Regions from separate parts of the Homo sapiens genome. Here all the other regions are reported to be linked to region 2. Evidence: microRNA targets listed by miRTarBase, many of them from high-throughput screens and not tested one by one. Region 2 holds a microRNA gene; each other region holds the end of a gene's coding sequence.

The links. The annotated mature microRNA hsa-miR-6779-3p reads AAGCCCUGUCUCCUCCCAUCU and lies in region 2 at 3,291-3,311, shown strand. An mRNA with a match to its seed (bases 2 to 7 or 8) in the 3' UTR can be bound and repressed. Matches are read on the target gene's strand: a 7mer-m8 pairs with bases 2 to 8, a 7mer-A1 pairs with bases 2 to 7 and ends in A, and an 8mer does both.
Region 1: miRTarBase lists KLHDC8B as a target of hsa-miR-6779-3p. Seed matches in the 3' UTR shown: 7mer-m8 at 1,550-1,556.
Region 3: the mRNA of FOXH1 is a reported target of hsa-miR-6779-3p. Seed matches in the 3' UTR shown: 7mer-m8 at 4,323-4,329 and 7mer-m8 at 3,924-3,930.
Region 4: miRTarBase lists FAM193B as a target of hsa-miR-6779-3p. Seed matches in the 3' UTR shown: 7mer-m8 at 2,649-2,655.
Region 5: the mRNA of B3GNT7 is a reported target of hsa-miR-6779-3p. Seed matches in the 3' UTR shown: 7mer-A1 at 2,237-2,243.
Region 6: the mRNA of TBC1D5 is a reported target of hsa-miR-6779-3p. Seed matches in the 3' UTR shown: 7mer-m8 at 4,439-4,445, 7mer-m8 at 4,082-4,088 and 7mer-m8 at 2,580-2,586.

What each region holds. Positions count from the first base shown.
Region 1 is chr3:49,174,877-49,179,933 of GRCh38, forward strand. KLHDC8B (kelch domain containing 8B) reads left to right here. Exons shown (of 6, transcript NM_173546.3): 4 at 1-90; 5 at 186-287; 6 at 729-1,610. The coding sequence ends at 925. It overlaps CIMIP7 (ciliary microtubule inner protein 7), which reads right to left. Exons shown (of 4, transcript NM_001080528.3): 3 at 3,606-3,662; 4 at 2,758-3,176. The coding sequence ends at 2,760. Among named protein-coding and RNA genes, the nearest start is that of KLHDC8B, 5.8 kb to the left of the region's middle.
Region 2 is chr17:38,911,727-38,916,795 of GRCh38, forward strand. It overlaps MIR6779 (microRNA 6779), which reads left to right and starts at 3,253; the gene lies at 3,253-3,316. LASP1 (LIM and SH3 protein 1) reads left to right here. Exons shown (of 7, transcript NM_006148.4): 5 at 2,599-2,749; 6 at 3,317-3,420. RefSeq lists an enhancer at 186-1,145 and a silencer at 4,949-5,069.
Region 3 is chr8:144,469,670-144,474,738 of GRCh38, forward strand. FOXH1 (forkhead box H1) reads right to left here. Exons shown (of 3, transcript NM_003923.3): 3 at 3,743-5,069. The coding sequence ends at 4,569. It overlaps KIFC2 (kinesin family member C2), which reads left to right. Exons shown (of 18, transcript NM_001369769.2): 13 at 2,273-2,377; 14 at 2,469-2,590; 15 at 2,692-2,815; 16 at 2,908-3,037; 17 at 3,126-3,382; 18 at 3,463-4,533. The coding sequence ends at 3,720. Among named protein-coding and RNA genes, the nearest start is that of FOXH1, 3.6 kb to the right of the region's middle. RefSeq lists a silencer at 2,773-2,832 and enhancers at 3,735-4,630, 4,631-5,069.
Region 4 is chr5:177,517,281-177,522,349 of GRCh38, forward strand. It overlaps FAM193B (family with sequence similarity 193 member B), which reads right to left. Exons shown (of 9, transcript NM_001190946.3): 8 at 4,694-4,791; 9 at 2,509-2,901. The coding sequence ends at 4,695. Among named protein-coding and RNA genes, the nearest start is that of DDX41, 2.9 kb to the left of the region's middle. RefSeq lists an enhancer at 1-45.
Region 5 is chr2:231,398,248-231,403,316 of GRCh38, reverse strand. B3GNT7 (UDP-GlcNAc:betaGal beta-1,3-N-acetylglucosaminyltransferase 7) reads right to left here. Exons shown (of 2, transcript NM_145236.3): 2 at 2,153-5,069. The coding sequence ends at 4,392. Among named protein-coding and RNA genes, the nearest start is that of B3GNT7, 5.1 kb to the right of the region's middle. RefSeq lists enhancers at 1,475-2,020, 3,662-4,207, 4,208-4,755, 5,008-5,069.
Region 6 is chr3:17,156,314-17,161,377 of GRCh38, forward strand. TBC1D5 (TBC1 domain family member 5) reads right to left here. Exons shown (of 23, transcript NM_001349074.2): 23 at 855-4,943. The coding sequence ends at 4,650. Among named protein-coding and RNA genes, the nearest start is that of PLCL2-AS1, 100 kb to the left of the region's middle. RefSeq lists enhancers at 2,105-2,605, 2,606-3,106.

The DNA.
Region 1 (5,057 bases), not on the chromosome of region 2:
GCCTGGGTGGCCTGCAGCAGCCTGGGCCCCACAACTTCTACTCTCGCCCACACTTTGTCAACACTGTGGAGATGTTTGACCTGGAGCATGGTGAGCAGTGGCTGTTCTGGGCTGTCCTCCCGCTCTCTGTGGGATGGAGGGGCATAGTGTGTACATGACTAGATCTGACCTCCCCTCTCCTGCAGGGTCCTGGACCAAATTGCCCCGCAGCCTGCGCATGAGGGATAAGAGGGCAGACTTTGTGGTTGGGTCCCTTGGGGGCCACATTGTGGCCATTGGGGGCCTTGGTAAGTCTCTATGGGGCTGGGGAGAGGAGGGAGTCCCAAGACAGGAAAGACTAGCCCCCAGCATGTGTGTCACCTTCTGCCCATCTCCAGGCACTCCAGGGGTCAGGGCTTTGTGAGCTCTTTTCCCTATCTATGAAGTAGGCAGGATGTGGTCTGCCTGGCCCAGCACTCAGGGTGTTCCTCAGTGACTGGGGGCTCTGTCAAGCACCAGCAAGGGTCTACGAGACAGCAGCAGGACAAATGACCACTGTATGCACAGTCAAGAGAACATATAGAAACATAAATGAATGAACAAATGATGAACATAGGCAATGAGGAGCAAGGCCCTGATAGCTCATCCTGGGGTGATAACTACTGGGCTATTCTCTGGGCTTAGGGAGCAGAAGGGCCTGGAGTCCCTACGGCCTGTGCCTCTCACAGCCTTCTCTCTCCTTCTTGCAGGAAACCAGCCATGTCCTTTGGGCTCTGTGGAGAGCTTTAGCCTTGCACGGCGGCGCTGGGAGGCATTGCCTGCCATGCCCACTGCCCGCTGCTCCTGCTCTAGTCTGCAGGCTGGGCCCCGGCTGTTTGTTATTGGGGGTGTGGCCCAGGGCCCCAGTCAAGCCGTGGAGGCACTGTGTCTGCGTGATGGGGTCTGAAGGCTTGGTGGGAGCTGTCCACTGGAGCAGCTCATTGCCAGAGGCAGCTATTTCTATGGCTCCTTTTGCTGCTGAGGACACTCACTGTGGCTCTGTGGGATGAGAGAGGCATGGGGGTGAGCACTTGAAACACTGCCTTGGGGCCTTGGGTTAGGGGAGCCTTTGTCTTTAGTGCAGGACACACATATGCTTACACCTACCTTTATCACCATTCGTTCATGAATCATGCCTAGCTCCATCCTTGCCCTGGGACCTACTAGGCCTTCCATCCAACTGGGAAATGGGGAGAAGCAAAGCTGGCCTCATGCTCTTCAGGGTCAGTTCCTATCTGGAGTTGACCAGGCCTACCCCAGTTGCCATTCCTGAAAAATCTCAGCTGCCAGGCTGCCTTTAGGGTCCCTGCAGACCCAGGAGAGTTGAGAGGGTGGGGGACACAGAGAGAATAGAGAGGATGTGGGAACTGCCAGAGGGCCGGAGCGCAGGAGTTCAAGTGGAGGAATGCTGGCTTTGAGCCCTCTACACTGCTGGTTGTATGACCTTGGACAAGTCACTTCACCTCTCTGTGCCTCAGCATCCTCATCTATAAATGGGGATCTCTGAAACCTTCCTACCCTACCTACCTCACAGGGCTGTTGTGAGGACCCAGGGAGTTTGGATGTGGAAGTAAAAGTGCTGCTAAAACCTAGTGTGTGGACCCTGGTGTGAACTCCCTTGTTTCCACTGCCCCTGCCTTCCTTTGGGGGTCTCAATGCCCCTAGGGATGAGGGTCCAGAAGGAGCCTCTTGGATCTGGTCGGTGTTCCCAAAGTGATTTGGTGTTTCTGTTCCATCTGAGCCTCAGCTTATTCTTTGGCAACATGTGATGACAGCGCCTCCTTACTGTCCTGGGGATTAGAGAGCACTAGGGCAGTAAGGAAGGGCTGTCACATGTCACCAAAGGATGGCAGGATAAGATGACCAGAGAAGTGCTCAGAAAACAACAGAATACCACAAGGTTAGGAAGACCTCCAGATCCAAGTTACAGAGTGTCTCCTTAGGGTCTCTGCTCACCCCCACAGGGAGGGGTGGTGCAGTGGGTTCTGTGGCCCAGGGCAGTCTCTTTCTGTCTCAGCTGTGGGGCAGCCGTCTCTTGGACAGGACTGTGTGGCCACCCAACAAACCCCTCAAAGGCAGCTGCCTCCTGAGAAAGCTGCCAACTCTTCCTTCTTCCAGCCTTTGTCGCCCACTAGTACTGGTCTCTGGGGTCTGCTTTCCCCATAGCTAAACTGAGTACTTGACCTGCTTCCCCAGTGATGCCTTTCATTCTAGGGTGAAGCACCTAGAAAGTCAGTGGCCCACAGGATATTTGCACATTGTCTGGCACGCTGGCAGAGGAAACCAACACAGAGATGTCTCTGGGGGAATGGGCTGTTTCCCAGAGGAGAAAGGTTGTGGGGAAGTTAGTCACTCCGCTGCCTTCATAAGGAGCCCTCCCTCAGTGTCACCCCCTTCACCCTGCCACCTGCTCTGTCCTGACTTCAACTTAGGCTGGGGACTGCCCTCTAATCTTCCTCTCTACAGCTGGGTTTACTGCAAGAACAGAGTAGTACTTGGGGCCCTGGAACCCACCTGATGTGGCTATAGCAATCCTCCTGGACTCTTAGCCTCCTGCAGGCCTTACCCTTTCTCACTTAGTGGCAGGGATCCCAGAGCAGCACCTCCCATGCCCAGCACAGAAACACACCATGGGCACAAGTGCCATGGGAGACAGGCACAGGACCTGGCAGCCTACTACTACCTTTCAGCCTCTTGGGCTACATCCCATTGTGGGCTGCAAGCACAGACAGGCTGCTGTGTCAGCTGTCCTTGTTTAATGCTCTGGACCAGTTTAGACACTCAGAGACCCCAGCATGAAGGTAGTGCTGCAGCAGCTTGGGTCTTGGGATCCCTGGGAGGTCAGGCAGTACGTCAGTGACCGGCGCCTGGGGCCCTACCTTGTAGCTGCCATAGTGGCCACCCTGGGATGGGCAGCAGAAGTTCTGCTGGTAGGTGGTCCTGGTATGGGAAGGCTGGACCTGCACAAAGTGGATGAGGTGCTGGGGGAGGCCACTGAGTCCTGGGCCTGGCCTGAAATCAGCCTGGTAAGAAGATTCCAGGGGCCCCTGCTGGCGCAACTCTATCTCACAGGGTGCCCAGCGCAGGAAGGTGTGCCGCTGCCACAGGCGCTCCAGGTCCTTCCGCCTTCCGATTCCCTGCAGCAGGCAATAGGGACCCTCCTCAACGGTATGGGCCCTTGGCCCACATTCCTGGCACCAAGCACCTTCTTGGGCCCCTCCTAACCCCAAGTCTGCTTGGTGATACCTGTCCTATGCCTGGCTGTCTTGGCCTGTACCCTGGCCTCCTTGGCCTGCCTCCCCAGTGATGTCTTTCATTCTAAGGTGAAGCACCCAGAAAGTTAGTGGCCCACAGGATACTTGCATATTGTCTGGCAAGTTGGCAGAGGAAACCAACATAGAGATGTCTCTGTTTGGGGGAATAGGCTGTTTCCCAGAGGAGAAAGTTTGTGGGGGAAGACAGCCACTCCTCTGCCTTCATAAGGAGCCCTCCCTCAGTGTCATCCCCTCCACCCTACCATCTGCTCTGTCCAGACTTCAGCTTAGGCTGGGGGACTGCCTGCCATTCTTCCTGTCTTCGGCACTCACTTTGTCAAAGGAAGTACGGTTGTCGTGCTTGGAGAAGAAGTGTCGCTGCGCCGGCTCCTTGAAAGACAGTGAGAAAGAAGGTGAATGGGGAAAATGATGCTTATTTACCCACCCTTACCTGGATCACTGCCTCAGGGTCCTTAATGGAGGGAAGTCACCAGGAGCCACTGCCCCTAAGCTGCTAAACTGCCAACAGACAGAGGGCAGAGACTAATTAAAGCAACACTTCAGTCCTGGGATATCTCAACCTGGGACTTGCCCTGAAGCAGAAGCCCGTGGAACCCTTATTGAGGAGGGTCCTCAATAAGGAGGCATCTGCTAGAACATCCTCCCATCAGGGGAGCAGTGGCCAAGTTTCAAGTTGGGCCTTAACTCTTGATTGCCCAGGACTCTAGTCCTCTCCTCCCCTGCATCCACACTTACTCCCCCATCAACATACCCAGCCTCTTGGCTCTAAATGCCATCTGAAAACTGGAATTTCTATCTCCAGCTCAAACTTTCTCCTGAACTTTGGGTTCAGTAGACAACTGCCTACTCCACATCTCCATGTAAATGCCTAATTGAGCATCTCCAAACATATGACTGAGCTTTGGGTCATCCCCAGACACACTCCACCTATAGCCTCCCCCAGCTCAGACCACGGCAGCCAGATCCTGTCAAACACCTTGAGTCCCCTTGATTCTCTTCTCTCATACCCCACATTGAATATGCAAGTATCCTGTTGATACTGTGGTCAAAATGTGCCCAGGACCAGACCACATCTCAGCATGCCCACTCTTTTCCCCGATCCAAGCCACATTACTCTCTTGCCTGAATTATTGCAAGAGCTTCCTGCCTGGTGTCCCTGCTTTCAAACTTACCCCTCCAGTCTGCTGTCTGCTTAGCAGCCAGCATAATTCTGTTAGTACATAAATGAGATCACATCTCATTTGCTGAAAATCCACAACAGTTCCTCCTATTTGTGATAGCCAAAGTCATCATAGTGGTCTGTGAGACCCACATGATATTGGTCCTTCTGTTACCTCCAGCCACACTGATTTCCTCACTGCTCCTCAGACACACCAGGTGCTCCCACTTAGGGCTTTGCACCACCTGTTCCTTCTCCTGGCCATATAATTCCCTCACACCTCCCTCTTTTCCTTCCTTGAGCACTAGGCCAATAGTTCCATCACCCTAACCCTGCATTTTTCACCTGCTAACATACTATATTGTTCTATGTGATGTTACCCCCACTGATTAGAACATCTCATGCCCCGCCATTAAACATAAGCTGCTTGTGGGCAAAGGCGGTCTGTCTTGCTCACATCTATAACTTCAGCACTGAGAATAATGCCTGACACAGCTCAATAAATGTTGCTGTTAAATCAATAAACAGGCTGGGCACGGTGGCTCACACCTGTAATCCCAGCACTTTGGGAGGCCGAGGCGGGTGGATCACCTGAGGTCAGGAGT
Region 2 (5,069 bases):
ACCTGGAGGTCTTTTCCCATTTGAGGCAATGAGATATGTATGTGAGGCTTTATGACTTGTCTTTTTTTTTTCATTTTGAGACAGAGTCACGGAGTCTCACTCTGTCACCCAGGCTGGAGTATAGTGGCATGATCTTGGCTCACCGCAACCTCTGCCTCCCAGGTTCAAGCTATCCTTTTGCCTCAGCCTCCCGCGTAGCTGGGATTATAGGCGCCCGTCACCACACCCAGCTAATTTTTGTAGTTTTAGTAGAGACAGGGTTTCACCAAGTTGGCCAGGCTGGTCTCGAACTCCTGACCTCAAGTGACCCACCCACCTTGGCCTCCCAAAGTTCTGGGATTACAGGCGTGATCCACCGTGCTCGGCCTCACCACCCGCCTTTCTTGTGGTGTAGTTCTTGCTGCCTCAAGAACTACATATATCAGGCCTCAAAACCCACCTGATATATGCGTGCCTGGGAATAGGGACCTTGACTTTTCCCCTGTCCCATATGGGCCCAGGGGCCGGTTCTGGGCTGGCCCAGGTGGGGCTAGAGCAGCTGGATCCAGGCACATGAGATGTGAAAGTGTGGGCCTTACGCCGCATGGAGCGGCTGGAGGAAGGAGAGAGGGAGCAAGGGTGCCGCAGGGTCAGATTGCCACAGGGCCAGGGTGCCACAGGGTCAGGGTAGGGCCAGGGTGCCATAGGGTCAGAGTAGGGCCAGGGTGCCACAGGGTCAGGGTAGGGCCAGGGTGCCGCTGGGCCAGGGTGCCGCAGGATCTGGTTGCCACAGGGTCAGGGTGCCGCAAGCACAAGGAGTCACCCGTGATTCTCCAGGGTCTGGCTCTTGGGCTGAGATCCAGGAGACCTTGGCAGGCCTGTCTTTGGGAGTCTGGCACAGCCCCAGAAGGCCATCTGGACAGTTTTCAGACCTGAGAGGAGGAAAGGGCTTGTGTCTGGAGAAGGTGCCATGGGGGATGGGAGGTGGAGGAAGCCTGGGGCCAATCAGGATCTGGATCTAGCAGGGAACACCGAGGCCGGTGTTCTCGTCCCACCATGGGACTCAGCCTGAAGAAGACAAGGTGAATGAACGACCATTTCTCTCTAACTCAGTTGGCTAAGAGGACTGAGCTGGCGCCGAGGCTCTGGACACAAATGGGCCAGTTGACCCTGAGGTTTCTTTCTGGTAGTGGAGGTGGGGCTTCCTCTGGCTGACCCTGCTTAGGTCTCTGATGGAGGTAGCAGGGGCTCTGGTTCCCCCAAACTGGCCAAGTCCTCCACCATAGCACCCAAGGGGTCTGGGCAGAGTGCAGCTTCCCTCCCCTCCCCAGCTTGGCTTGGTGGGCACCTGCCTCCCCTGCCCTCCTGACCTTGATGGCTAATGCAGCCAGCCCCAGGCAGGCACAGTCACAGCCCTCAAACAACATGAGGCCCAACTCAAGACTCCTGGGTGGTGGTGGTCAAGGTGGGGGACTCTGTAGCCAGTAGAGCACTGTGGGGGCAAGAGACTGACTTGAAGGCTTGGAGCCTCACATGCCCGCCTAGTGGGGTGGTCCTGAGGGATATGACTTCTTTGGGCCTCTCTGCTCATTTTTGGAACCTGACCCGAGAAGGAGCCCATCCAAGACAATGTCCCGCCCTCAGGGAGGGTCTGGCAGTTTTTATCCCTAAAGGCTGGGATTCTCAGCGGAGCATCCTAGGCTGTAGTACCCACGACATCTTGCACACAAGAGGTGGAATCGCCTGTTGATGAAGAGCAAGGCTCTGGAATCTGTGATCTTGGGCCACTCACTTCACTTATCAATCCCTTCGCTTCCTTCTTGCCTGTTACATGGGGTCTGCAATCTACCCCTCAGGGGCGCTGACGAGCTCACATGAGCCTGTGACATAAAACACCTAGCACGGCCCTGGCGCAGTAAGAGCTCAGGAAACGGGCTGCTGCTGTGGTTACTGTGGACCCAGGCGGAAACAGAGCAGCCCCGCCCCTGCCGCAGGCATATAAAAGTGACCACTTGGCCGGTCACGGTGGCTCACGCCTGTAATCCCAGCACTTTGGGAGGCCGAGGCGGGTGGATCACCTGAGGTCAGGAGTTTGAGACCAGCCTGGTCAACATGATGAAACCCTGTCTCTATTAAAATACAAAAAATTAGCTGGGCGTAGTGGCAGGCGCCTGTAATCCCAGCCGCCCAGGAGGCTGAGGCAGGAGAATCACTTGAACCCTGGAGGTGGAGGTTGCGGTGAGCTGAGATCGTACCATTGCACTCCAGCCTGGGCGACAGAGCCAAACTCCGTCTCGAAAAAAAAAAAAAAAGAAAAGGGACCACTCACTTTGGTCTGATTCTTCAGTTCTCATGGTCCTTTTACATCGGTCATTTCATTGCATTCTCCAACAGTGTCTGAGGGAGACTGGTGTCTCATTTTGCAGAGGTGAAAACTGAGGCTTGGCAAGATTAGGTAGCTTGTCCAAGGACACACAGCTGGTGCTTCCAGAGCGAGACCTGGCTTTCTGTACCCAAAGCTCTTGGGTAGTCTCTCCCATCCTGGGATCTTGAGGGTCACGGGAAGGAACTGGGTGGTTTGCAGTGGGACCCTTCACCTAGTGCCTTCTGACCTTGCAGATAAAATACCATGAGGAGTTTGAGAAGAGCCGCATGGGCCCTAGCGGGGGCGAGGGCATGGAGCCAGAGCGTCGGGATTCACAGGACGGCAGCAGCTACCGGCGGCCCCTGGAGCAGCAGCAGCCTCACCACATCCCGACCAGTGCCCCGGGTGAGTGCAGGTCCTGTTGGTGCAGATGACCTGAGGCGAGGCCAGTGGGGTGGGGAGGAAGCCAGGAGAAGACAGACAGACAGATACACCTTCCGGAGCCTTGCTCTTAATCAACAGGCGATTATGCCTCTTGTGTGCAAGAGGGGACCAGAGGACCTGAGGCCGGGCCAGCTGGGGTGGGGAGGAAGTCGGCGAGAGACAGACACACACACACACACACACACACACACACACACACATGCACGCACGCATGCAGGCGAGGAAAAGACTGCTTCCCAAGACCCCAAGTTCCATTCTCATCCAGAATGAGGACGTGAGCACCAGGGTCAGGCCTGTACTGGGCCAAGAGGATTGAAAGGAGAGGCCCCCAGGTCATGGGGCTCAGAGCCCCTGCGTGGGATACAACACACAGGCAAATGTGCACACGTGGACATCAGCCTTTGAGCTGTGGGGCTTGAGCCAGGTTGGGGGCGGGGTGGAAGTGCATGGTATGGACTTCTCGGGAGCTCTGGGAGGGGCTGGGTTTGGCAGGACAGTTTCCAAGCCCTGTCTCCTCCCATCTTCCAGTTTACCAGCAGCCCCAGCAGCAGCCGGTGGCCCAGTCCTATGGTGGCTACAAGGAGCCTGCAGCCCCAGTCTCCATACAGCGCAGCGCCCCAGGTGGTGGCGGGGTGAGTAACCCTGGCCGGAGGGGAGAGGCCAGAGGCAGGGGGTCCTTCGGGAAGGCTTGGACACAGCTCATGGATTCTCCTGACCTTTGCACCCACCCTCTGTTGTGTGTGATGATAAGGATCTCAGCCTTGTGAGCAGAGAGGAAATTGGTTGGCGTAGTGGGCAGAGGCTGGCTGGGACTGGGGCCCTGCGTTCCAGCCCTGGTGTACCATGGGCAGGTTGCTCACCCTGCTTTGGGTGGGGTTTCCTTACCCCAGCTACCTGGGAACACACAAGGCAACTTTCTGCATGGGGCCTTCCAGCACTGGGCGCTGCTCTCCTCGCTTCATGAGGATGGCCCCCACATCCTTCAGCTCTCAGGCTGCCCCTGCCTCTGAGGGGCCTCCCCAGCCATGTCGTGTAAAGCGCATCACCCTGATGCTTTGCATCACTCGACTCCGCTGGCTGCCTTCAGAGCACTTTTTCCAACTAAAAAGAGCTCTTCGTGTTGGTCACCTTCTCTGTGTCCCCTGCTGGGCTGGGGACCCTGGCAGCGTCCGTCTGGTTCACCTACTCTGAGCCAGGCCTAGAGCAAGTGAATAAGCCCAGCAGGAATGGGGTGAGATCAGGCTTCCTGAGCCCTCAGAGCTGAAGTCCCGGCTCTGTAAGTCCTGCCACTCACTCCACCCATGGGTGCCGCTGAGCCACCCTTACCAAGCTCCTGGCAGGCTCAGCGCCTCCAGGCTGGGTGCCTGGGAATTCAAAGTAGCTCACGTAGGAGCAGAACAGATACTTAGAGAGATAAAATCGCCTGAGATAATGGCTGGCTGGAGTCTGATGCTCTGGGCACACAAACAAAGGGATGTTAGGACTGCCCAGGGCACTGTGGGCGCAAGAGTTAGTCTGAAGTATAAGGTTCCAGGCAGCCCAGCCAGTCCCTCCCTCCTCAATGGGTCTGTCCTGGATGTGTAGGGTCCATCTCTGAATATAAAGCCACCTCTCTGCCCTCTGGGGGCTTACATTCCAGTCAGGGGGACAAACAAGAAAACAATAAGAAAATAGGTGTATAACATAAGGTCAGCGGTGACACGCTGTGAAGAGAAAGACAGCAGGGTGAGGGATGGATAGAAAGCAGCTGGATTAAGACATTTGGCCGGGGGTGGTGGCTCACGCCTGTAATCCCAGCACTTTGGGAGGCCAAGGCGGGCAGGTCACTTGAGGTCAGGAGTTCGAGATCAGCCTGGCCAACATGGTGAAACCCCCTGTCTACCAAAAATACAAAAATTAGCCAGGTGTGGTGGTGTATGCCTGTAACCTGTAATCCCAGCTACTCGGGAGGCTGAGGCAGTAGAATTGCTTGAACCCGAGAGGCAGAGGTTGCAGTGAGCCAAGATTGCACTATTGCACTCCAGCCTGGGTGACAGAGCAATATCTCCAAAGAAAAAAGACATTTGGCCGGGTGCGATGGCTCACACCTGTAATCCCAGCACTTTGGGAGGCCAAAGTGGGCAGATCACCTGAGGTCAGGAGTTCGAAACCAGCCTGGCCAACATGGTGAAACCCTGTCTCTACTAAAAATATAAAATTAGCTCGGCATGGTGGTGCATGTTCATAATCCCAGCTACTCGGGAGGCTGAGGCAGGAGAATTGCTTGAACCTGGGAGGTGGA
Region 3 (5,069 bases), not on the chromosome of region 2:
ATCCTGACCCTTTTTCAGAGTTCCCTGAAGAGCAGGAGAGGCTCCAGTTTCCCCTTCCCAGTCTGGGTGTCCACCTGGAGGAGAGAGGGTGGCTGGGCTCTAGCCAGGAAGGAAAGGGAACCGAGGGGGCTGGGAAGCAGGGCAGGCAGCCCAGCTTGGTGCCTCCTCCTCCCAGGCTTCACTGCCTGCCCACTCCCCTTTGCTGGGGTCCAGGGTTTGCCCAGCTATGAGGGCCCCTCATTGCTTTATGGCCCCAAGGCAGGCGGTGGGTGGTGGGGGCCGTGGGTGAGGAGGCAACCTTCTAGTCTTAGTGTGCTCTCTCTGCCTTGCCTGGATCCCACTCTCCTTCCCCACCCTTTTCCTGCCAGACACCTGTGGAAAAGCAGGGGCTTCAGCCCCAGCCCACCCCACTTTCACACACGTTTTCATCTGCACATGCCCTTTGCTGCTACAGCTCCCATAGCTAAGGAGATGGCAGCTCAGAGCCAGGGGAGACTAGGTAAGGGGCAGAATGGCAGCGACTCCCAACCAGGCTGCCTGCCAGCCTCACAGGGACAGGGGGACGACTGCCCAGCAGGTGGCCAGGGTCACCCTGATTGCCTCTTTTCCAACCACTTCTTCCTTCATCCCACACATCCCTCTGGCCTTAGCCCCACCCCACACTGCAGCACTGCGCAGGGCATGCCTTGTGCACCGTCCTCTGGACAGCCGTCCTGGACAGGGTCCTCTCAGTCAATGTGTCTGAACCAAAGGCATCTGTGGACAAGCCCCTCATCTGTGTTCCTGTTTCTGCAGTGGTGCCATGATGTGCTCCTGAATGTCATCCTCAGTGCCACCTCCATCCAATCATGGAACCTCAGTGACCACACAGAACACAGAATTCTAGATTCTAGCCTTGTGGCTGTCTTCAAACAGAGCTGACAGCCCACCCTGTTAGCAGCGACCTTCTGGGCATAAAAGCCAGCCATGTTGTTGCTCAAAAGACTGTTGGTGTCCAGTGCCAATGGGGTGAATGTCCTAACCTTGTGTCTCTCTCAGCACCTGTCTGTGCCTGGGCTCCAGCAGGCCTGGCTGGCCACCATCCCCCGTACCTGCAGGCCCTTCCTGGGGTCACGCCTTGTGAGCCAGGTACTGGTGTGGCCGGCCCTCTAGGTGCACTGCCACAAGTGTTCACAGCAGGTGCCACTGCAGCCCTTATCTCTCAGGGGAAAGTGAGGCACAGGAAGGCCAATGAGTAAGCTCCAATCATACCCAGGTTTGAACCGTGCAGTCACGCCCCAACATCTGGGCTCTTTTTTTTTTCTTTATTTTTGAGATGGAATCCCACTCTGTTGCCCAGGCTGTAGTGCAGTGGTGTGATCTCGGCTCACTGCAACCTCCGCCTCCTGGGTTCAAGCAATTCTCCTGCTTCAGCCTCCGAAGTAGCTGGGATTACAGGTGCGTGCCACCATGCTCGGCTAATTTTTGTATTTTTAGTAGAGACAGGGGTTTCACCGCGTTTGCCAGGCTGGTCTTGAACTCCTGACCTTGTGATCTGCCTGCCTTGGCCTCCCAAAGTGCTGGGTTTACAGGCGTGAGCCACCTCGCCCAGCCCATCTGGGCTCTTTTAAACATTTTTAAAATTTTTTACTACATATATATGTATATGTATTTTTTTTTTTTTGGACAGTCACACTTTGTCATCAGGCTGGAGTGCAGTGGTGCAATCTCAGGTCACTACAACCTCTGCTTCCTGGGCTCAAGAGATCCTTCCACCTCAGCCTCCCGAGTAGCTGGGACCACAGATGTGCAACACCATGCCTGGCTAATTTTTTTGTAGTTTTTGTACAGACGGGATTTCACCGTATTGCCTAGGCTGGTCTCAAACTCCGGAGCTCAACCAATCCACCCTCCTTGGCCTCTCAAAATGCTGGGATTTATTTTTCTTTTTTTCACGTTGGCTTCCACATTAAGGACACCACACCTGCGCTCTTAACTGCTGTCCCCAGGTCTCCTACGTGGTCTTCAGGACTCCAGAGCCTCTGCATAGGCTGTTCCTCTTCTCATTGTGTCTTTTCCCTTCTTTGCCTGGCAAATTCTTGCAAGCACCACCTTCTCTAGGGAGACAGAGGGTCTCTGTAGGACACACCCTCCCCCATGGTCCCTTAGAGCCATCCTCCCAGGAGACTAGGCTCTGCTCACACCTGCCTTCGTGGCACTCCCCACCCCACCAAATAGGGCATAAACAGGCAACGTGGGGAGGACTCAAAACACATTCTCCCGCCTCCCGCAGGTCTTCAGAGAGCTGGAACCTGCGGTGCTGTCCTGCCTCCGAGGCTACAGCGTCTGCATCTTCACCTATGGCCAGACAGGCACCGGGAAGACCTACAGCATGGAGGTGGGACAGAGCTCACGCCCCAGTGGGAGAGGCCCCAGGGGCCCTGCATGACTTGGATGTGAGCCCGGTGTGCACCCCACCCCATCCTCAGGGCCCTCCTGAGGACCCCGGCATAGTTCCTAGGGCGCTGCAGTCGCTGTTCCGGGAGATGGGGGCCGGCCGGCAGCACCGGGTGACACTCAGCATGGTGGAGATCTACAATGAGGCTGTCAGGTGGGCTACTCCACCAGGGAGGCCTTCTCCCCACCCCTGGCCCAGGGCCCTTCCGGATTTCCAGAGAATTCTGGAACCAAGACCTTCCCCTTTCTCACCAGGGACCTCCTTGCTCCAGGGCCTCCCGAGCGCCTGGCCGTGAGGCAGGGCCCAGAAGGCCAGGGCGGGATCCAGGTGGCTGGCCTCACCCACTGGGACGTGCCCAACCTGGAGACATTGCACCAGGTAGGGCTGCACCGCTCTCCGAGACCCCGCCCCGTGCTTCCACTTGGGGGCGGGGACCCTGCACCTGACCAGCCCTTCGCCCCGCCTTCCAGATGCTGAAACTGGGGAGGAGCAACCGGGCCACCGCCGCCACCGCCATGAACCAGCGCAGCTCCCGCTCGCATGCCCTGGTCACGCTGACGCTGCGCGCGGCGTCTCCACCGCGCGCTCCAGGCACCGCAGGTACCACGGCCGGTGCCTGAGCCCTGCGGAGTCTCCAGAGCACCCGAGGCCCGGCCTTCCCCCATGTCGGGCTCGCTCGCCCCTCTAGGCACGCTGCACCTGGTGGACCTGGCGGGATCCGAACGCGCACGGAAGGCAGGGGCGGCCGGCCCGCCGCGGGGAGACCCAGACGGCGCCCGGCGCCTGCGGGAGGCCCAGACCATAAACCGCTCGCTGCTGGCGCTAGGAGGCGTGATGGCCGCACTGCGGGCCCACCGGCCGCACGTGCCCTTCCGCGACTCGCAGCTCACGCGACTGCTGCAGCCGGCGCTGGGCCCAGGCACCACCGCGGTGCTGCTGCTGCAGGTGGGCGCCGGGGCGGGGCAGGTGTGTGCGTGCCGGTCGCCGCCCACCCGGGCCCGCCCACCCGCGCCTCTTGCCCGCAGATCTCCACGCGGCCGGAGGATCTCGGGGAGACAGTCTGCTCCCTCAAGTTCGCCGACCGAGTGGGTCAAGTGGAGCTGGGGCCAGCCCGGCGCCGCAGGGTCCCGCGCTCCTCCGGGACGCCTTCTTCCCTCAGCACCGACACTCCGCTCACCGGGACCCCCTGCACCCCTACGCCGTCCCCTGGCAGTCCTCCATGCCCCAGTCCCGACAACGGCTCGGGCTCGGCTCTCGCGCCCGCAGAGGGCCTGCCCCTCTAGTCCTGGGTCGCGGCCCTGCCCATGGGGTCTCAGGCCAGGTCTCTGCTGGCAGAGGCGGTAGTAAAGTCCCTGTACCCCGTCTCCCAGGGCACAAGCTCCCTAGCCTCTTTGGATCCATTGCCCCTGAGCTCCCAGAGTCACCCCTCCACCTCCGCAGCCAGTGAAGTGTGTTGTGCCTGCTGAAGTGATCACCCCCCGCCCCCAGCCCTGCATCAGGCCACAGGTCTTGGCTTTCTCCTTATCACCATTTGCTGTTATCACGGCACACAGCAGGGAATCCCAGGCCCCCCCGCCAAGTGGTTACCCAAGTCACCACTCCTGACCCAAAAATCAGGCATGGCATTAAAACGTTGCAAATTCCTTTACTGTTATCCCCCCCACCACCAGGACCATGTAGGGTGCAGTCTTTACTCCCTAACCCGTTTCCCGAAAAAGGTGCTACCTCCTTTCCAGACAGATGAGAGAGGGCAGGACTTCAGGCTGGATCCACCACTGGGCTCTCCCTCCCCCAGCCTGGAGCACGGGAGGGGAGGTGACGGCTGGTGACTGATGGATGGGTAGTGGGCTGAGAAGAGGGGACTAGGAAGGGCTATTCCAGGCTCAGCCCTGCTCCTGCAGCTTTGCCGCTGAGTGTAGGAAAAACAGGCATGACAGACCAGGGTGAGGGTTGTGCCCAGCTGGGCCACGGCCATGCGTGGGGTGGCCCAATAAACACCGTGGACTCCCAGCAAGGCTGCTGCCTGGTGTTTCGAGGCTGCTGTGGTCGCAGACAGCCGCCTCGCCTTGGCTCCCTGTCAACAAGGTGGGGGTGGGAGCGGGAGGGAGGAGTGGCCCCTGTCTTAAGAGCCTCACAGGCTGCACCAGGAGAGCAGCCAGCCTGGGCCAGGGGCCGCCAGGTCCCGAGGGTGGCTGACCCAAACGTCGTAGATGCTTTTGTTGGGTGGCACCCCTTGGAAGAGGGCGTCTAGATCGCAGAGCAGCCCTGGGGGCCCTCGGGTTTCAGGGGCCACCCCCCAGTAGGCAGGGCTGGTTGACGGACACTGGGGACAGGAGGTGGGTGGTGGTGCCAAGGGCATTACCACATTGGGAGTGTAGATAGGCAAGTAGGAGGTGGGCAGCTGCCCCCAGAGGGAGGCCCTGTGTCCCCCGCTGGACCGTCCCCCAGGAACTGCGGTGCCCTGCAGTAAGTGGAGAGGCCAGGCCCTAGGCTCTGGGGAGAGGGTTGAGGGCCCGATGGCTCCCCCCTGCACAGTCTCCCCCTCCACTCTCGTGGGGCCAGGAAGGGGGCAGAGGGGCCACAGAGGCCTCTCAGAAGAGGGAAGGGGTGGGGTGGGCACCGCCTCCTCCCC
Region 4 (5,069 bases), not on the chromosome of region 2:
CTGCCAGGTGCCCAACCTCTCCCAGAGCATGGCGTCTTGGGCACGCCCCTGCCGGCGGACAGTGCGTCCTCTAGGGCCGGGAGCTGCGGGCCGAGTTCGCGTGGGCCCTGCGCTTTCATCCCTGCCGGGGACGCCGGGGTTGCGGGATAAACCGCTCGACACACCCTGCCTCCCTGACTGCGCCTGTGTGACACATACGTTCACTGGTGGGGCACGCATCAGATACGGATGGCAGTGGTTTTGAAGTGGGAGGCCCTGTATAAATGTAAACGGTTATTACTGTAAATGCTCTAACAGAGCTGCCTGGGGGGCGCTTCCAGGGAAGCGTGGCAATCTCAGGCCGGGAGAGGAGAGGCGTCCTGGGCCAGGGCGCTGCAGGAATACAGGTCTGGCGATGTGCAAGTACACAGATTCACCAGGCAACAGCATTGCGGCAAGGGTGGGATGGGGAAGCCAGACCTAAGGCCAGAAAAGGAGATTGCGACCAGAGCATGCCTGCTGTGACTGTCAGAGTAAGTGGTTTCAACTTTATTAGAGACTTCTAAGGAATGACTTGGTCAGCTCTGTGCTTTCTTGCCTTCAAGAGTGTGTGCTGGGCGCTGGCACTGCGCTCAAGCAGATGATAATCAAGACACATACCTGGTGTGCGAGGAGCTTATGTAGATTGAGACTAGAAATATAGACAGATAACTGGTCTTAAAGAGAAAGATCCTAAGACAAGGTACCGCTTTTCGAAGTGTCATAGTTTTCACAGTACAATGGCCTCTTAGCTGGGATGTGAAGGATACACAGGAATTCATGAAGTCTTCTTTAGTAAAGAAAGCTTAGGCTGGGCACAGTGGCTCATTCCTGTAATCCCAGCTCTCTGGGAGGCCAAGGCAGGAGGATCGCTTGAAGCCAGGAGTTCAAGACCAGCTTGGACAACATAGCAAGACCCCATCTCTATAAAAAAAATAAGCTGGTGCTTACTGCCAGTCCCATGGTGGGTCTCAACCTGGGAGGGATGGAGGAGGACATGGTTTCTGGTCCTGCTCACAACACCCAAATACATGGCAATCTCAGGCCGGGAGAGGAGAGGCGTCCTGGGCCAGGGCGCTGCAGGAATACAGGTCTGGCGATGTGCAAGTACACAGATTCACTAGGCAACAGCATTGCGGCAAGGGTGGGATGGGGAAGCCAGACCTAAGGCCAGAAAAGGAGATTGCGACCAGAGCATGCCTGCTGTGACTGTCAGAGTAAGTGGTTTCAACTTTATTAGAGACTTCTAAGGAATGACTTGGTCAGCTCTGTGCTTTCTTGCCTTCAAGAGTGTGTGCTGGGCGCTGGCACTGCGCTCAAGCAGATGATAATCAAGACACATACCTGGTGTGCGAGGAGCTTATGTAGATTGAGACTAGAAATATAGACAGATAACTGGTCTTAAAGAGAAAGATCCTAAGACAAGGTACCGCTTTTCGAAGTGTCATAGTTTTCACAGTACAATGGCCTCTTAGCTGGGATGTGAAGGATACACAGGAATTCATGAAGTCTTCTTTAGTAAAGAAAGCTTAGGCTGGGCACAGTGGCTCATTCCTGTAATCCCAGCTCTCTGGGAGGCCAAGGCAGGAGGATCGCTTGAAGCCAGGAGTTCAAGACCAGCTTGGACAACATAGCAAGACCCCATCTCTATAAAAAAAATAAGCTGGTGCTTACTGCCAGTCCCATGGTGGGTCTCAACCTGGGAGGGATGGAGGACATGGTTTCTGGTCCTGCTCACAACACCCAAATACATGGCTCTTAGTGACCCTGTTAGCTCCCCACATAACCTCGAGTTGGTTTTAGGAGCGAAAACTAAATTTGGGGCATGGAGTTTGGACACAAGTGTGTCAGGGGCATTTTGGGAAAACTCATTGTATTAAAATCCAAATTTACAAACCAGATCCATTTCGGGGGATGAGGTAGTTTGCTTGACTTTACAGAAGAGTTCATTATCCTCTTAACTCTCAAGCCCTCAGCTACATGTCCCACCCCCACTGGAAAATCAGATCTAATTTATAAAAAACTCAATTTACCCCCAACTTCCCCTGACTGTGAAGTCAGTGTGAGGGGCCTCGATGGCCCAGGCTACAGATCCATGAAGGCCTCAGGGTCTTTCCTAGACCTCTTCTCACATCCAGATGCACAGAGACCATCTTCAACCCCTCCAACTCACCCATCTTGCAAAGAGGGAAACAGGAAAGAGTGGGGAAGGGGCTGCCCCAGGCTCACATACCAGAGACCTCCCAAAAGGAGAAAAGGGCACAGATGCCATAATCATACCAGTCTGCGCTCAATGCTAATCAGCCAGACTAAGTTGAGCTGAGTCACTTTCCTATCGGCTTTAGTTTCCTCACCTGTAAAATGGGACAATAGCACCAAACTGCTGATGCATGGTGCATGCTAGGGTTAGTGACTAAGGGAGAGCCCATGCTTCTGAGCACACCCTCAACTCCCTCCCCGCCCAGACCCACAAATCACCAACATGCCAACTCTGTGTCCAAATGTTGCTTTATCTTTCGGCACGAAAGATCTTCACAGTATCAAAAGTAAAGAATTGGAAAAAAACAAAATAAAAACAAAAACAAAAAAACCAAACACAAAGAGAGCAGTGTTGGGCCAGCAGTACCATCAGCCCTGGCCCTTAGGCCAGCCCAGTCCACGGGCTCTGAGTGTGGAGGCTGCGTAGCACCAGGAAGCGGCTCTGCTGAGGTCAAGGGGCCCCAGCACAGTGTGGCATCCGTTCAGCTTTTGGTTGGTCCAGGATGGTGGGGAGCACAGAGGGTCTTGGACGGGTAGGTGGGGCACACGGAGGGAAAAATTATACGCCTTCAGCTGGCAGTCAGGGCCTCAGGACGCCCTGAAGCAGCTCAGCCTGGGCAGGGCCTGAGAAAGAAAAAAAGAGCAGAATCACAGTAAGCAATGAGCCATGCTCCAGCCTCCCCATGCCACTTGGGTACCCATGGGTCTCTGGTAGCAGAAACAGCTGGCTGCTATTTTTGTTCCCTGGGCTGAAAATGTTGAAGATTCCCTGGATCACCTGTAGCAGAGGATGCAGGTTAACGGGTTGGGAGACAGAGCCCCAGTCCCAGGATCCTGACAAGGTGGGGGACAATCCTTGAGTAGATCCAGCCTTTGGCACTTGCTGTCCATCAGCAGGGGCTGGGAGGCCAGCTGTGCAGCTGTGCTCCTGCCTCTGACTGTAGGTGCACAGCCCGGGGGAGGGTGAAGAGGCTCAAAGGAGAGCGCTTACTAGGGGGTGGGGAGAGGGGCATCTTCTATCTTGGAAAAGAGGCCAGACCAGGTGAAAAAGGGTCAAGAGGAGGCAGTGGAAGGAGACAGTTGCATTTGATTTCTTGAATGACAGAACTGGGCTTGTGGGAGGAAATGCGATCTCTTTTCTCTCAGTAGGGATAACAGATGAAGTGCCTGGGGTTCCTGCTACTCCTGGTTCCCATGGAGGTGGAGAAGAGGCAGGAGGCCACCTTGGATCTGGAAGATACTTCTGGGGCTTGTGGGCATCTCAGTTTGGCAAAGGGGGCTGACTGAGCCCAACCCCTTCAGAGGAGAGGAGGACTAAAGTGAGTGTAAAGAAGACAGTCTGGACTCTGGGGCAGCACAAGGGTCACAGGGAGCCCCAGCTCTGAAGGCTGTCCTGGCTGCAGGCTCTCTGAGCTGCCCCTGGGGAGCTGAGGGTCCAGGAAGTTTGCTGCTTAGGCCCAGAGAGGAGCTGGCCTGGCACTGGAAAGAGGAGAAAGACAGGTGGGGCCATCATGGGGGAAGTGAGTTGTTTGTGAGCTCAGTCTGCCTGCCCCAGCCTTCCAGTCTCCAGGACAGCTGTGTGGTTGCCAGCCGGAAAAGGCCTGACCCCAGGGACACAGCTGAGGGTTGAGATATGAAACTGCAGAGCCACTCAGCCCCCAGCCCAAGGTCTGCCTGCTAGCTGCCCTTCTCTTCATCAATAGGGTTCCAGGCCCAGTGCCTTCTCCAGTTGTCTGTTCCCAGTCCAGATCATCATCTGGTACATCATTGTTTCAGACAAAAGGACCTGTGTGGGTGGCTGGGAGGGGATGCCAATGCCATCTGGCACCCAGGTCTCTTCCTCTAGGAGGCACTGTGGCTACCAATATCCTCATGGAGCTTGCCCTGCTTTGGGTAGCCCCCATCAACTCCTCCATGCCTAAATGACCCACGATGTTCACTCAGGGCTGGCCCCTTCTTATACTGCTTCAGCTGGGAAGTACCTTGGTAGCCTACACTGAGGAGCCCAGGGCAGGAAGTGGGACTTGACACAAGGACTGATAACATCAGGGGTGAGGGCAGCCCCATGGGTCTGATGGCTACCTGGGCACTTTTGAAATCAGCTGGTTAAGACCCTGATGGTTATGCCTTAGGAGATGCCAGTCCAGGAAGGGGACCTTCAGGAGCATGGGCAGCAGGGCCCAGGGAGGAGTAATAGAACAGAGGCCTACAGGTGAGTGGCTGCGGGAGGAGATGGGGCCTTGACCTTTGGAGGCTGTAGCCTGCCATTGCTGTGAAGATGCAGACAGAAGCCAGGGATCCCATGCCCCAAGTCCAACTCCCTGTGCCCCAGAGCACAGAATGGTCTGGTGAGCGTACAGAGAGGGTGGCCAAGCACAGGGAGAGGCAGTGGATGTAACTCTTGGGGTCTCTGTACCTCACTGAGCTGTGCTAGGAGTGGTTTTCTTGAGGCTGAAGTTGGTCCAGTTCACAGCAACTTTCTGACGAGTCTGCTTTGCAGAATCCAAACAGAACCTGTTGGGTTTGGGGGACACATGAGAAGCACAATCAGAGGTTCATTCTTTTGCTCACTGGACTCCTAAGGTACCATGTCCCCATCACTAAGAGACCAGGTTCTCTACAAAACCTCTTTGGCTCTCAGGTGCTAGGGTTTAGCAGGCATAGGAGCTTTGCTGGCTTGGGGGCTTCTGGATTGGGCCCAGGGAACTATGTATGAAGACAGTGAAACTGCCTTGGGATTCCAGTTCCTCCTCATCTGGTGTTTGATTCTCTAGCTCTGCTAGGCTGGCTTC
Region 5 (5,069 bases), not on the chromosome of region 2:
TCCTTGTCTGGAACCTCCTGCTCCAAGTCACCTTGTTTTCCTTTTAGCTGGGGGCATTTGTTCTTCCAATATCCTATTTCTTTACAATAAGCACACTGGTTACACTGCAAGCTCTGACAGCCAGGCTGAGTCTCTTTCCCGGGTCCCCCCTTCCCTTGCCTCTTTGAGGAGACCCCTCCGACTGCTGCAGCTAACAGCTCGGCGTTTCGCCGGGCCTGACGTTCATTCTCTCTGCGGTTTTCCTTAGGGCTTACTGCATCCCTGTTTACAAACACCTGGTTAGCTACTTCTAATAACTGTGATGTGTTCGTCCCTGCAAACCCATCCTGTTTCTGCAGTTTTCTTCTAATGTCTTCTGCGCTTTGACTAACTAAAGCCATGTTAACCATTCGCTGATTTTCAGGGCTAACGGGATCAAAGGGAGTATACATACGATAGCCCTCACACAGTCTCTGGTAGAATTGTGCTGGACTTTCTTCTTTTTCCCCGAATGACCTCAGAGACCTTGTTAACGTTTGTGGCCTTCTGGGCTCCCCTCTTTAATCCTTCCAAGACAGCTTCCCTGTCTCGGTTTAGCCTTTGCATATCCTCTCTTTCATTTGGATCCCACTGGGGGTCAGTTCCTGGTAACTGGGTCCTTACACACTCTTGGGGGTTTTGGTAATCAGCCGGTGCATGTTCCTGTACCCACTTAGTTGCTGCTTGGAGCACTCTCTGCCTTTCATCTGTGTTAAAGAGGAACATGAGCAACTGGTGGCAATCAGCTCAAGTGGAGTTATGGGTCTGGATAATAGTTTGGAGCAAATCAATTAGAGCTTGTGGTTTTTCAGTATAGGACAGGGTATTGTTTTTCCAATTGAGAAGGTTGGCAGAGGTGAAGGGCTGGTACACAAAAACACGCTTCTCCACCATGTGACCATCCTCCTCTATCCCAGTATACCGCTGCTCTCTCAGGGGCATTTGTATCCCAGTTTTGGGTCTTAAACAAGCTGCCAAGGGAGGGGTTTCTCCTGAGGCTTCACCTCCTCTCTTGTCTACTCTGGGTGGCCTAGGGATATGTTTGTCTTACGGAGGCACAAGCACTGTGGGCTCAAAAGTAGGGAGCCTCTCTGCCTGGTAAGGGGAGGGCAGCACTGGGATCACTGGTGCCATCTCCTGCAATGGATCTTCTGATGTTGGGTCGAACAGAACTTCAGGAGTTGATTTCCCCCAGTGGGTAGAGCGGGATCCTTCCTTGGCTATCTGTCCCTTTGCTACTAGCACTGCTGCTGCCTGCCCTCTTAGCCACTGTGGGGGGTCTTGCACCAGCTGTAGTAACCAAGTGTCTATGTATGGGAACTGGTCTGAGTGTCCTGACTTACCAGTTACCTTGTGCCATACCTTAGAAATAAGGGACCTGTCCAGGCTTCCTTCTGATGGCCAACCCACTTCTAATGTTGGCCGATCTATTTCACACAAAATTCTGTTTCCCTGGTGTCATAGTAACCCCATAGTCTCCGTTAAATCCCTTCTTAAAATTTTTCAACATAGTTCCTAGCGGAGTAGGCTTACCTTGTGTCTGACCCGTGTTTCCTTGAGACAAAACACCAAGCTCACACCGCACGCACACCACAGAACAAAGAATGGGTAAAAAGGGCACACACACACTTTTTCAGTTTACACCAAACCAGAATCAAAACCAAACCCAGAGTATCCAGAAATCCAAGCCAGGTCAAAACCAAAACCAAAGTATCAAGCAATTCAAGTCAAGTCAAAAACAAAAACCAAAGTGCCGGTACAGGCACACCGTGGGTGATCAGGACATGCTTCCACTCAAATGGAGTGGGCAAGTTCCAAAGACCAGTCTTACCAAGTTTCAGATGTCCGGGCTCCAAGTGCCCGTTCCTTCAGCCACTGTGCTGATCCTCCACGGGGGCCTGCCACACACTGCTCTGACGAGGTGTTCCACCCGTCAAGAGCATTGCCTACCCGGGAGTGCTCTCAGGATCTGCGTAGCTCAAGCTGGCCACAGTCCCCCGCAGGGATGCTCCACAGGGCAGGCCTAAGCCGCCTAAGGGGCCGCCTCGACCGTCCGTCAATTACCTCGCTTCCCGGTCAGGGAACCAAGAAATGTAGCAGGATGAGTCCCAGACAAAACTCCTCAGACACCGGATTAAAGAAGGAAGAGGTTTTTATTCGGCCGGGAGCGTCGGCAGACTCGCGTCTTAAGAGCCGAGCTCCCCGAAAAAGAAATTCCTAGCCCTTTTAAGAGCTTACAACTCTAAGGGGTCCACGTGAAAGGGTCATAATAGATCAAGTAAGCGTGAGGAACGTGACTGGGGGCTACACACATCAGCTAATAGGACAAAAAGTTTTACGGTGCTTTCTCACACAATGTCTGGGATTTACAGATAACACCAGTCGTTTTGGTCAGGGGTTAATATTATTATCATTTTAACCACCAGGGCCAGGTGGTGGCGCCAAGGTCGTCTAGCTATTTATCTTACTTCTGTTTCTTTCCAGCTTTTTGCTTTCTCCCTTTTCTCCTGTCTTATAAACTAGGGAAAAGGGGAGGTTGGGGAGAAGCTGGGAAGGACAACAGGAGAAGTGGTGGTCTCATTCCATAGCAGTAGCGCTGTCCCCTTTTCCTTCCTGGGCATCTGAACCCCCTGGGATTCCCCTGAGCTGGGTGCAGGCACGGAGCTGCTGGCTGGCTTGCTCATACTGCTGTCTGAGTGACTCTTCTCCTGGGGGTAGCTCCCTCCCCACCCTGGAGGTCAGCAGCTTGGGCCAAGGTCCCTGGCACAGGGCCATAAGCTATTTCAGTGCTTTCAGGTTGCCTGGAAGGGATGTCAGGGAGCCCACCGGCCTCTGTACGGCCGACCTAATCTCACCCACTGAAACATTAGCCTCGGGGCCAACTCTGGCCTCACCCTTGGCAGGGACAGGAAGGCACTGGCTCACGCTAGAGCCACAGCTCGGCTGTCCACCAGGGCACAGTCAAGGGCTGGGTGCATTGCTAGCTCCCAGGTTTTTCTGTTGCCGTACTCCCATCCCCACTTTAATCCTAGCACTCAGCCCCGTCTAAATCCCTTCCAGAAGTCCTTGTGCACCCACCAGCCAAGAACAAGGAACAAGCTGTGTCTTCAGAAATCTCTGGCAACCTTGGCCCCAGACAGGCTCTCTGATGCAGCTGGGAACAGGAAGTTTCACACCAAAAAAAAAAAAAAAAAAAAAAAAAAGTCCCATTTTATTGAGAAAATAGTGTCAATCCCTCCATCTTTCCTAGGTGACTCCCGCTGAGGTAGGAGGTGGCAACCTTCTGCACCCACCCCCACAGCTGATCCATCCCTTCACCGGGGCAGATGCTGGTCTGCTAGGCCCTGGAGAAGCAGGGTGCGGTGGGGCAGGGCTCTGGAGGGGGCTGGGCTGTGAGGGGCCTGGGGGTGCTGAGGGCAGGCAGCTGGAATGAGGGGAGGGAAGGGAGGAGGGCCAGGGAGGACACCACCCCCTCCTGAAGCCTGGAGCCTTCTCCCTCCAAATTCTTCATAAATAAAACTTCACAGTAATAGAGGAATGTCCACTTCCAGGGCCAAACCGGCTGCTTTCCAGCCAGGGAGCCAGGCCTGGGGGTGTGGGGGCTGCGGGAGAGACTTGCCTGGGGTGGGGGTCAGCAGCTCTGGGACTTCGGGGGGCCAGGAGCGCTGCTCTTCTGCCCTGTGTCGGGGTGGGGTAGGGCTGCAGCCCCAGGGAGATTCTGAGGGGCGCTGAGGTAGTCAGAGCGGTCGCCCTTCCAGACCTTACAGGACACAGCCAGGAGTGGAGGCCCTGTGGCAGAGGCGGCCCGTCTCCAGGCAGGCCTGGGGCTGCGGAGAGCCGGCTGGGCCCTCTCTCCCAGGAGACCAGGGTGTGGACTGGGGGGTGCCTGTGAGCCCGCACAGGGTTGAGTTTCTCCTGCCAGGGCCGCCCGGCCTCTGGGGAGACTGAGGCATTTCACAGAAGACTCTTCCCTGTGAAGACGAGGGGCGGCCACAGACCCATCAGGCCAGGCCTAGCCCAGGTACCTGAGCACAGCGTTCCTCCAGAGGTCACCAGGACCTCCCACCACATCTGAGGGGGCCAGCAACGGACCCAGGTCAGGAGGGCTGCCAGGGCCTGGCGCCTCGCTCCTCAGAGAGGGCCTCCAGACTGGGCAGCTCCAACCGTTCCTGGGCCTCAGTTTCCTAGAATTATCCACACAGGGAGGTCCCTTTCTGGCTACCTGCACCCCACCACACCCAGTGGCACGTAGGCCTCAACCCTCCACCTCCCCTTGGGGACCAAAGGCTAGGCCTGGGCACTGTGGCTCCAGCCCCAATACCATGGGGGCTCAGGAGCAAGTGCCCTGGCCTGTCCTAGTAGCCCGGCTGGGGTCAGAGCACCTGGAGCTTGCGGGAGCAGGTGAGATTGCTGTGCACCAGCCCCCACATGGCGAGCAGCTCAGGGGGCAGCAGCTTGTGCACCACGAGCATGGCGCGGAAAAAGCACGGCTCCTTGTTCATGCGGCTGTTGCGGTTCCGGGAGATGCCGAAAGTCTTGAAGCCCTCGTGGGCCGTGGGCTGCACGCCCAGCACCTCCAGGCACATGCCCAGAAAGACGTCGTCGATCGGGTAGAGCTCCAGGGTGTCGCAGGCATGGTGCAGGCGCCGGGCCAGGCTGCCGGCCATGAGGAAGCCACCGCCGCCTGCATACGGCGGATAGCTGGCCTTGCCGTACAGGGCCCCCGGGATGTAGTATTTGTTGTCTTTCCTGCGAATGGGCCGAGCGTGCTGCAGGACATCGCCCACGAACAGGTTTTCCTGTGGCTGCCGGTCAGCCAGAAATTCTAGCAGGTTGGTGGGGTTGACGAAGACGTCATCGTCGCCTTTGAAAATGAAGGGGACGTGGGGGCAGTAGATGTCCAGCCACTTGAGGAAGTGGATCTCCTTGAGGGTCAGGTTGAAGAAGGTGTCGAGAAAGCCCCACTGCAGGATGTCGCCGTAGAGGCGGTCTTCGTAGGCCAGCAGCTGCTGGTAGTGCGTGCGCTCCTCCTGCTTGGAGGCCGTGCCCAG
Region 6 (5,064 bases), not on the chromosome of region 2:
GTAGAACCTGTGGGGAGGGGCTGTGCCCCACAAGAGGAAAAGCTACTTGCTAGCTGGGTTGGGGACAGAGGCCCAGGCTAGAGATGGGCCCAGGTGCAAATTCTAAGCTGCCATTGGCATGATGGCTCTGCCTAAGCTATAGAGATCCCCCTCCCCATCCCTCCTAGTTTGTCACTTAAGACTATACTCACCTTTCCCCCAACCTCACCTGTGGCCTTTTCACCAATCCCACATTGGATTGGTGGAAGTGCAGCTACCAGGGCAAACCTGGCGCTGATGGATAGCAAGCCACTGGGGCTGCCCCCAAAATGGTCTCTTGGACCAGTGGGCTGAGCAGGGCTGCCTCAGGGTGCGACCCGGGCCTCCCAGCAGCCTCTGAGGTCCTGGCTGTCAATGGTCGGGGTAGGACTACATGACCTCCAGGGGCTCTTCCAGAATTAAGCATCGTCTTTGAAACTGTCGGGCATTTCATGGTATGTCAGGCTCTGTGCTAAGTCCTTTCAATTGTTATCCTCTTCAATCCCCACCACACCCTATGAACTAGGTGACTACTCTCTTCAGTTTGCAGATAAGGAAACTGAGGCCCCAGAAGTTAAGAAACTAGCCCAAGTTAGAGAGGAAGGGAATGTCAGAGTTGGGTGTGAGCCCTGGGCGAGGCCTAGGACCTGCCCAGTGGTGATGTGAGGCTGGACCACAGTGCTGGGGCTGGACCAACCTCTGCGTCCGGGCTGGGACATGGTTCCATCGTCCACGCCCCACCTGGCTATGCACTCCGAGGGACTCCTCTGGGCCGGGCCTGGTCAGCACCTTGTGCCCCAACGCGTGGCCTGGAATAAGTCAAGCTATAGTCTCAGTTTGACATTAGTCTTTTATTATAACCATATTGAATGGGGTCGCTTTGCCAAAAGGAGAAATCATTTCTTAAATCAGTATGAGTTATAGCATAAAGATGGATGAGAAAAAAGCGATAGGGCATACATGGCGTCACTGAATATTCCATCAATCAAATGAATTGTGCCACTGTGAGAAAAACTACTATGACAGCTTTTACATCAAAGTGGTCTCAAGCCTGTTTATACGAACTTTATATATCTTTTTAACAGTATAAAAAGAGAGCTTTAGTAAGTAACACTGAGAAAGCAGTCTGGCCTTTGAGAAGGAAGCCTGGCTTGCCAGGTGCCATCCTCAATGTATCCGGCCTCTTCTCTCTGCTCCACAGCCTCCCCAGTGCCCCTCCTCCAGACACACAGGGCAGGGGCCAGGGGCCAGGTGTGTGTCCGCAGGAAAGGAGGGATGGAATTGGTTGGAGCCGCCACAGAACGGCCACTCTATGTGGGGACCTAAGTCCTCCGTACACACTCCTGTTCTATAATGAACCCTTGGAGCAGTTCCTTAAAAAAATAAAATAAAAACAAAAATAATGTGCATCAACTCTGACTCACAGGTTATTCTTAGGAGGCCAGCATGACTGCCACAGAGTTTGATATTTGTTCAGCATCTCTGACAAAGTAGAGGAGGCATTCCTGTTGAGAGCGGGCAACTAACCCCCAACTCCCTGAAGCAGCTTCCTTAGCAACCCCAGGGCTGACAGCACAAGAGTCAACTGGTCATCTGCAGGCAAGGCAAATCACAGGGAGGTCCTGGTTTATTTTTAGAGTCACATTCTTTCTGCAGTGATATTATTTCTTTCCGGATTGCAGTTACCTCTGAACATTAGCAGGAGGTCAGCTTTGGAAGAGTAATCCAGTGTAACTAAATGTTTAATGTGTTATCTGACCCTGTGGCATACACTCAAGGTAAGGCAAAGTAATTAGACTTGCTAGTCTGTAACTCTCACACGTAATGTACAAAGCTAAATTTTAACTCAAATTCCAATCTGATCAAAGAGGAATGCATGAAACACATAGGGACACATATAAAAACAGGAGATGATGATGATGGGAATTAATCTAAGCTTCATGTATACAAAATGTATTTAACTGCTAATAATCAAAACGTAAGAAGGGTTCCACTGATTACATTTGTTAACAAAACACAATATATTCAGGATTTAAAAAATGTACAATTAAACATAAGTATCTGATAATATAATAAAAAGGAGCACATATTCTTTAATAGCACTGTAACTAATAAAATTGCAAATAATACTCAACTATGAAGAATTTAAAAAAACACTTAAAAAACATAAGGCAGTAATACAATTGTCTGAGTATGAGCCTGTGGGAATTTGAGGCTGGTACTACCCATGACCCACTGTCCTTGTATGTCTCTCTCCTCCAAGGAGGTGGTGAGCTTGCTGGGGGCCACAGAAGCACAGGATGGAGAGGACCGAGAGGACCTGCCTCTAGTGTGCAGCAGGGCTGGGAGTTTTCAGTGACTATTAAACACCCAGCCAACTGCAGGGAGCCAGCGGAGAGCCTTATTGGCATGGTGGGTGCCTAGTGACTCTTGCAGGGCGAGTGACCCTCAGCTATCATGACTCTAGCTCTAGGGCAAAGGAAATACTAGAGGTCAGCAGGTGACACTGGCCCTGCTGCCCAGGGATGGCCAGGTCTGTGGTCCTTTCCAGTCTGTCCCAGAGCCCTGGTGGGAACAGCTCTACACCTCTTACCTTAGAACTGAAAACACTGACACCTTCCCAAGGTGAGAAAGTGACCAATGGCAACCCTGCACAGTTGCAAGGTCACTCGCTGTATGGGGGCCCCGCGGCTTTTACAAAGTGTTGTCATAGGGATATGTGCTTGGCAGCAGCTTACTCAGAGGTGCTGAGAGGAACACTCAGAGCCAGAAGCCAGGGAGCTACTGTGTGCATCTGCCAGGCAATTGCCCAGTGGTTGAAGGTCAGACAACCTGCTGTCTGGCAAAACCAGTTATTATTCACCTTACATGCTGATGTGGTAAGAGGAGAGTTCCCTGCTAGAGTTTAAGAGCAAATTGCAGAACCAATTAGAACCCTCTCTACAGTAGCTGACTTGAGAGTGAGTCACCATTTTCTTGGAGGGCAGGTGGGAAATCATGTCATTATCACATTTGTCTATAGAGATATATAAGGTTAGCAGTGGGAGGGACGTAAACAGTGTCTGTTCCTCTATACTGAGCTTTCATTTGTTACCATGAAGGCCTCCACTGCCCGGCTGCCTCGCCATCCTCTGAGGACAGGCTCAAAGAGCTAGTCATCCCTGGCATGGCTGCTCTCCCTGATGGAGGCGAGACAGGCACTGTGTCCCTCTGCCATCCTCACCCACTCCTGTTAGAATTCCTGCGCAGGCAAAGGAGAGGAAAAGCATCCTTTCCAGGGATCTTCTTTAAGGAGAGAAACAGCTCATGTGATGCTCTGTGCCCATCATGGTTTCCTAAGGTGCTGACTGACAAGGGGGAGAGTCTCTAATCTGTGCTCAGCCCAGGAAGGCACTGGCATGTCAGACCCGGTCCCGGCAGTGGGGCCCAGGATACGGGGTTCACAGCTGAGCACAGGCCCTGCAGTACCTACACTTGACTTCCAAGAAGGGAAGGGGTTGTGTAGAAATCCTGCATCCTCTTGGCATGTGGAATGTTCTCTAGGTATCCTTATTCCCCACAGAAGGGACTCTAGGTCCAATTCTCTGTCTTATGACTGCTACCTTAAGGCCAATGAGGGATTCTGACTTTGGGTGGGAATGAACTTGGGTTTTTCCCTTTATTCCTCAGTTGACAGGTATATACAGCTCTGAAACCAGAGAAACCTGACTAGAAAACTGACTGTCTGAAAGATGTTTATCCCATAAAGTCAAGGTCGCATTTTCCATTTGAAGGATAGTAATATTCTTATATCTTTTGAAATCAGTGCAGCTAAAACTGGCTTACAGTAATCTTGTTTTCTGGCTATGAAAGATTCTAAAAGGTGAAATATAATTGTTTAAGGAGAGATATTGATGGCCAAAGTTGATATGGCCTAAGGATTGGAGATGCATTCTTTAATACATCAAAAAAATCTAACACTATATCACACCTAAATATTATTCCTAAGCTTAGATCCTGTTTGCAGAGATCCTTATAACTTTGAGAGGTCAGTAATGAGGTTTTTTCTTTTTTTTTTTCCCCCAGCCCTGGAATCCACTAGTTCTGGTTCATTCTATTGCATTTAGCTCTGCGATATGGCTTCCCAATGCAGGAATAAAGTAGGCTGAGACAGATTTCCACAGAGGAAGCTTTCTTGGTATAAACCAATTTTCCCATGTCTGATGCTTTGAGGGATAGAAGATACGAAAATAACTATTTCTGCTCCTTCTAAGTATAACTGATGGAGGTGCCACACATTCTTAGCTGGGGAGAAGGGGACAGAGGAAAAGTGATTCTAAATTGTGATTCGGTCTTTTCTAACTGTGAGTGTGATACTGGGTACGTAACTCAGCTCTAACTCAGAGCAAGAGTCGGGTGGGGATTAGGTAAGGGCCCAGAAAGCCCTGTCTGCATGTGGCAAACCTAAGCCTCTGTGCTTTGTGGCCATATATGCTTCTCTCTAAGGGGTTTCAAAGGGCTGGACCAATGCAAAATGCATGCCGGGAAGGAAGCAGTGGTTTAAGAAGGTTCTCCACTGGATGAGCCTCAGTCTGGCCTTGGGGCCACTGAAGGGTGGCTAGATCCCTGTGGGGCAGGACTGGGCACTGTGGTCAGATGTCCAGGGGACTCACAATGGTGAAGCCAGAGTCCTTGCTGCTGTCGTCATCAGGACTGGAGCTGGGGTTGCTGGAGGAAGCTGAGGCTGGGCCCATCAGTGGATCTGAGAACACCAGTGGGGAGCAGACTGGGGCCTGGCTTTTCCCAGAGGTGCTTCTGAGGGTGCGAAGAGGCTGGGCCTGGCCGGAGAAGGAGCCCCTGGCACTGCTCCCATCATCATCTTTGGAAATCAGGATGAAGTCATCGGAATTCCCTCTATCAGTGCACCCTGGCGTTTCTGAAGAGGCCTGTGAAGTACAGTCAGAAGTACAGGTGGATGAAAGAAGAAACTGGCAAAGAACTGAGTGGAAGGCCCTGTGAACTGGGGGACTCGTGGTGGAAAGCTAGGCCACCTCACCCTACATTCGA